2 linked regions of the Homo sapiens genome follow. The gene in region 1 interacts genetically with each later gene. Each region holds a gene or a part of one and is shown in the gene's direction. Other genes may lie near its edges.

What was found. A genetic interaction does not mean that the proteins touch.
Region 2: of IMP3 (region 1) and ATG10, changing one suppresses a phenotype caused by changing the other (phenotypic suppression), as found in Homo sapiens cells (one large-scale study listed by BioGRID).

What each region holds. Positions count from the first base shown.
Region 1 is NC_000015.10:75,638,593-75,641,496, reverse strand, and holds IMP3 (U3 small nucleolar ribonucleoprotein protein IMP3), read left to right. Parts: upstream 1-1,272; 5' UTR 1,273-1,328; coding exon 1,329-1,883; 3' UTR 1,884-2,404; downstream 2,405-2,904. UniProt on the Homo sapiens protein: Component of the 60-80S U3 small nucleolar ribonucleoprotein (U3 snoRNP). Required for the early cleavages during pre-18S ribosomal RNA processing. Part of the small subunit (SSU) processome, first precursor of the small eukaryotic ribosomal subunit.
Region 2 is NC_000005.10:82,167,523-82,171,022, forward strand, and holds part of ATG10 (ubiquitin-like-conjugating enzyme ATG10), read left to right. Parts: intron 1-3,500. UniProt on the Homo sapiens protein: E2-like enzyme involved in autophagy. Acts as an E2-like enzyme that catalyzes the conjugation of ATG12 to ATG5. ATG12 conjugation to ATG5 is required for autophagy. Likely serves as an ATG5-recognition molecule. Not involved in ATG12 conjugation to ATG3.

The sequences.
Region 1 (2,904 bases):
CTTTATAATTTACATATTATATTATTTTCCAGATATCGAATATTTTATATATATATATATATCTTTTTGAGACAGGGTCTGGCTCTGTTGTGCAAGCTGGGGTGCGGTGGCACCATTGTAGCTCAATGCAGCCTACAAGTCCTGGGCTCAAATGATCCTTCCCCCTCAGCCTCCCAGGTAGTCAGGACTACAGGTGCGCACCACCATGCTTGGCTAATTCTTTAAGATTTTTTACAGAGGTGGGATCTCGCTTCTTTTTTCTTTTTTTTTTTGCCTAGGTTGGTCTTGAACTCCTGGCCTCAAATGATCCTCCCACCTCAGCCTCCCAAAGTGCTGGGATTACAGGCATGTGCCACCGCGCCCAACCCTCAAATATTGTATTGTAAAAGACAATGAAAAGCATACAAAACAAAAATGATCAGTGAGAAGCTAGGTGGCGTCAAATGCCCGGGCAAAAAGGGGTTAGGTCTGCAGCGCTATACTCAGATGTAACTTACAGATGCAACTAGCGGAAACAGCATTAAATTTGTTAACTCAATGCTTGGTGGCCAGAAATTCATGTCAGGATAATTCATTTGAGCACAGACTAAAGGGTTTGGACTTGTAGTTATAGTCCAAGTTTCTCAAACTTGCTGGGTTTTATGAATCATCTGACACTTTAGTTAATAATACAGATTTCCAGGCGACTCCCTTATAGATCCCTTTTCTGTGGGCCTAGGAAGCAGCCAATCAGTATTTCATGGGTTCGGTGCCACCTATCCCAACTTGACAATGAGAGATCGCTCTGCATGCCAGGTGAAGGACCTGACGCTGGCGGGCGGCGGGGACTACCAGGTCAGCCCCAGGAGAGCCGGCTCCGGCAAGCTCCCCCAAGGCATGGCAGGAGCCCAGTGCAAGTTAGCACAGTAAACCCAATCAACAAGCCGCAGTCACCCCTCTTCCCCAGAAATGGCCTCTTCAGCTCTTGCGGGGGAGACTCTGAAAGTCCCCAAAGGACAGAAGTCTAGGAGGAAATGATTGCCGCAGAAAGGGATACAGTCTTGGCTACTAAAAACCGCGCGGAACCGCCTAGGGACCCGCTCCCAACCACCCACCTCCGGTGCTTCTACCCCCTCCCTCGCAAACGCGAAGAAAAGAAGAAACGCGAGATCCCAGTGCAGAGGCGTGGTCCCACCCTGGCCAATGGGAAGTGAGGGCGTGACTTTAAGTCTTTCTTTCATTGGCCCAGGGTCCCAGGCCGTCCAGGTCTTGGGGCGCCGCGGCGGAAATCGCGCGGATGCCAGAACGCGCTCTCAGCTTCGGGTCCTGCGGCTGCGGCTGCCGCCATCATGGTGCGGAAGCTTAAGTTCCACGAGCAGAAGCTGCTGAAGCAGGTGGACTTCCTGAACTGGGAGGTCACCGACCACAACCTGCACGAGCTGCGCGTGCTGCGGCGTTACCGGCTGCAGCGGCGGGAGGACTACACGCGCTACAACCAGCTGAGCCGTGCCGTGCGTGAGCTGGCGCGGCGCCTGCGCGACCTGCCCGAACGCGACCAGTTCCGCGTGCGCGCTTCGGCCGCGCTGCTGGACAAGCTGTATGCTCTCGGCTTGGTGCCCACGCGCGGTTCGCTGGAGCTCTGCGACTTCGTCACGGCCTCGTCCTTCTGCCGCCGCCGCCTCCCCACCGTGCTCCTCAAGCTGCGCATGGCGCAGCACCTTCAGGCTGCCGTGGCCTTTGTGGAGCAAGGGCACGTACGCGTGGGCCCTGACGTGGTTACCGACCCCGCCTTCCTTGTCACGCGCAGCATGGAGGACTTTGTCACTTGGGTGGACTCGTCCAAGATCAAGCGGCACGTGCTAGAGTACAATGAGGAGCGCGATGACTTCGATCTGGAAGCCTAGCGGATCTCCCACTTTGCATGGCTGTCTTTTACAGATGGGAAAACTGAGGCCTGATGCTGGAGATTCTATGAGGGTGCTCTCCTCAAGGGTATCAGACGGTCGTAGGTTCTTAAGAATTTGATTCATCAGTGGCAGGCCATGCATAGAGCCACGGGAGGTGCGTCCTTGTTTTCCAGGGAATGTTCTTAGAACTTGGACTACTGATTATTAATTGACTGTGCCTTGGGAAACAGTGGGAAGTAACTTGGTGCAGCACTGGGGTATTGTTGGCTTCTTGTGTTGGAAACTTTGTAATGTAAAAGGAAAAACTGGAAATCCCCACGCCCTGTTTCCCTTTATCGTCTTGTGGTTGGACTGGTTCAATTCGTTTAACTCGAATTCTTGCTCCTGGCCGTGGTTAAGCTGTGTACAGATGATGGAGAGTTTGGCCTCAAGTTTTTATAAACTGAGCGAGACTAGTGTTCAGGATCTCCTCCCTTGTTTAAATGTCAATAAATGCCCCAACTGCTTTGTAAGTGCAACTTTTTAATCTGTCTGGTTTTCTTTTTTTCTCTAGAGACGGAGTCTTGCTCTGTCACCCAGGCTGGAGTGCAGTGGCGCGATCTCGGCTCACTGCAACCTCCGCCTCCCGGGTTCAAGCAATTTTCCTGCCTCAGCCTCCCGAGTAGCTAGGAGTATAGGCGCCCGCCACCGCGCCCGGCTAATTTTTGTGGTTTTAGTAGAGTCAGGGTTTCACCATGTTGGCCAGGCTGGTCTGGAACTCCTGAACTCGTGATCCGCCCGCCTCGGCCTCCCAAAGTGCTGGGATTACAGGCATGAGCAAACTGCGCCCAGCCTCTGGTTTTCTTACATAGAGTCATATTTATACGTCCCAGGAGCCCAGAGAAGAATAGAGTCAGCAGCGAGTGACCTGCCTGTGGATTAGATGTGCAACAGGGCCACATGTGGAGGATGCAGGATGTTGTACAGGATTGGGCAAATTTGTCACTTTACCAGTCCCTTCCTTGGAATGAGTGTTTTG
Region 2 (3,500 bases), on another chromosome or scaffold:
ATGCCAGGTTTTGAAAGAGGAAGTAATTCTGTTGTCTCCAGGAGACCTAAGACCCAAACCATCTATGTATCTTTACTCTTTAGTCTGATACTTTTCAGAGACTATAGGAGTAGTGGACTTAGAAAAATAGAACATCCTGAGGACTCAAAAGTGGGTATCCAAACTAGCTGAAGCAGCTGTTCCACTTCTATAAACACGTATTTTTATTTAATTCTTGAAGGCAGACAGCCAAGTTGAGACAGCATTCTGCTTCTGCCTCTCATTTCTACTACTTTGGTGTACAGGAGCTCAGTTACCAAGTGGGCAACGTGGATTTAAGAGAAGAAATAAGCCCTTCCATCCCAATGTTCTGTTTTTCTCTAACTACTTTTGTCATTGTAGGTTTGGGAGAGGTGGTGGGACACAGTTAATACCCTTTGTCACTCAGGAGAGGGTGAGACATAATTGCACGTCTGTTGAGTAATAATAAATAGCCTACATTGGAATAGTGCCTTATAGTTTAGTAAATCCACTCCCACAAAGCATTGACATCTTCAAGTGCATGCTGTTTTTTTTTTCTTTTTTTCCCACTGTTTTTGAAGCATACCATATTAAAGAATTTTTTGTATCATGCCAAAGCCTTCTATCCATTCCCTACCATTCTTATTCCCTGACCTTTTTATGTCTCATTTTCCCTTTTGAGGGCTCAGCTTTGATCAAAAGCTAGTGGCAAATGTTACAAAGGTGGTAAAACCCTTAGGCACATACATAATGGCCTTTTGCCTTACCAGAGGCCTAGGCTTAAATATTTTCTCCTTACATTTAGCTAGAGATTTCTATATTTATTTCATCTTGAATTCTGATTCATCTCTTTCTTTTCATTTGTTCTCAGTCTCTATTGAAAAATGGACCAAGTGGTTCTTCTTATTTTCAAAACATTTAATTCTTTGGATGACATATGGGTTCTTCTTGGGAGCTGTTTTGACATATTTCTTTAATTAGTCAGCAGGGCTGCATTTGAATAGAGGAGGAATCTTTTCCTCCATTCAGCAAAGGAATGGCTGTCCTTTATGGAGACCATTCTATTATTGGCCCAGGAAAAAAGGGTATAGAATTAAAAATGTAGCCTAAATATTTCATGTGAAAGATTTGTCCACTTGTTGTAGGCCTGAAGGATGCTCATGGAGAAACAGGGCAAAAGAAATAATCAAAGAATAGTTCCTTCTCAAAGGCAGCATGAATCAAACTAAGATAAACGCCATGATAAAGAAAGAATAATGGAAAGTTTGGAATTAAAGCAGCATATAAATCATCAAGCAGGAAAAGGATTGTCTGTGGTTTGCAATAAGAGGACATCTTTGGAGTGCATAGAGGAGAATGACAGCAAAACAGGAAAGATGGGGGTTGGAGGAAGCCGAAGAATAAAAGTAGAATATCCATAGCTCTGTCCAACAACTTGTAGAGGACAGCCACAGGTTGGGTTTCTTGAAGAGGTTAGGAAAAGCACTGTAGAAGGGGAGGAGAGTGAGTGCCAAGCTATGGGGGCTGGAGGGCTGGAGAGAGCCCACCATATTTGGAGAACAGTGAAGGACCAGTTTGGAGTAGGGGCTAACTTAGGATGACTTACGGAAGAAATAGTTGAAAAGATATGTTGAGGTCAAATTATGGAAGAGATAATGGTTAGGAAGGGGTTGGAAGATATAAAGAAAAAGTGAAAGAGTTTGAGCAGAAGTGAATGAGACCAGAGGAAGGATGTCCTAGAAATTGTGCCTGAGTAAAACAGAAAGAAAAGGAATTGAAGGGTGAGAGTGAAATTTGGAAAAAAAAAAAAAAGGATTTGGCTTTTTCATTGTTGTTGTTATTAATTTTATAACAATTTAAAAACAATAACCTCTTAGAGAAAATGAAGAAAATGAGTTGGAAAGAACATATTTTCGGGGAAAGATGTATTATTGCAAGTACGGTAAGAGTTATGGTTAAGGCAGCTTGTTGAATAGGAAGAAAAATAGTGGATTAGAGAAGTATTTTAAGACTGGGGCAAAAACGACTCTAGTTAATTACTACAGTGAGCAGAAAATAGAAAATTATTTGACAGATAATTTAATTTAGAGTCTTAATTGTAAAGAATCTTTAAGAAAGTTTGTGTATTTATATTTATGTTACACATATGTTTATGTAGACAGTAAATCTAGCCAAGGTCATGATAATGAACCATAACATGAATTTTGGTGAATTAAAAAGAGATTCTAGGGATTGAAATGAATTTGAAGAGCAAACAGTGAAAGTTATTTTTAAGAATAATGAAAAGTTATCTAACTAATACAAATATATTCAAACTGAAAAGTCCAAATAACAGAGGAAATCTAGTGAGAATTATTTGTTGAGCCATGTAAATGTTTGAAATATTTTGGGGAATTAGGATAGAAGTCACATGCTGGGTTAGAACATATGATAGCAATAGAATCTCATTGAAAAATCAAGCCCTGTTTTGAAAATGTACTAAAGGAAAGGTGCTAAAGAAATGGGAAGTAAAACTACAGAGATAGCTAGTTAGCCAAAAGGTTTATTCTAAGCAGAATATTGCTTAGCCACATATACAAAAGGCAAGAGATTTTAGTTGGACCCAGAGGCTTGGGAGAGAAAATAACAAGGTAAGTACATTAATTTTATTAACCTGTAAGCGACTGTATTTTAGCTTTCTTAGGTGAATGTTTGTGCCATATGGAAAAAACATCTCTTTGCTTACTATTGGCACAATGAGCCCTGTTTGAAATACCTATTAAAATATACATGAGTGCCTACTGTGTGCACAACACAAATCTCATTAGCCTCTTTTTAAAATATGCTGAAACAAATCACTGCCTAACTTGTAACTCATGTATTGTTTTTCTGCTCCTTCAAAGTCATCAAAGCAGTATTCGAGTCTATATGTTAGGTGCTGTTTTGAGAAGGCAGAGACTGCATTCCATGAGAAGGAGACCAGGTTGGATGGTGGAAGTAAGGGTATTCAAAGTGCTGGTATAGAGTAATATAGTAGTAATAGGTCCATGATGTGGGGATAATGTTTGAGGAAAGCCAGGAATACAAATTACTGAGTATTAATCTCAAGAGTTTGGGATCAAAACCTCAGAATACTTTGGATAGGATTGAAAATAGAGTGTTGGCAGGGCGCGGTGGCTCACACCTGTAATCCCAGCACTTTGGGAGGCCGAGGCTGGCAGATCACCTGAGGTCAAGAGTTCGAGACCAGCCTGGCCAACATGGTGAAACCCCATCTCTACTAAAATACAAAAAAAAATAGCTAGGCATGGTAGCAAGCGCCTGTACTCCCAGCTACTTGGGAGGGTGGGGTGGAAAATCGCTTGAACCCTGGAGGCGGAGCTTGCAGTGAGCCGAGATCACGCCACTGCAGTGACAGAGCGAGACTCTGTCTCAGGGAAAAAAAAAAGAAAACAGAGTGTCTTCTGCTTTAGAACCAGCAGACCTTAGGCTGTAGATATCCAGCTGGTAGTATGGTTCTC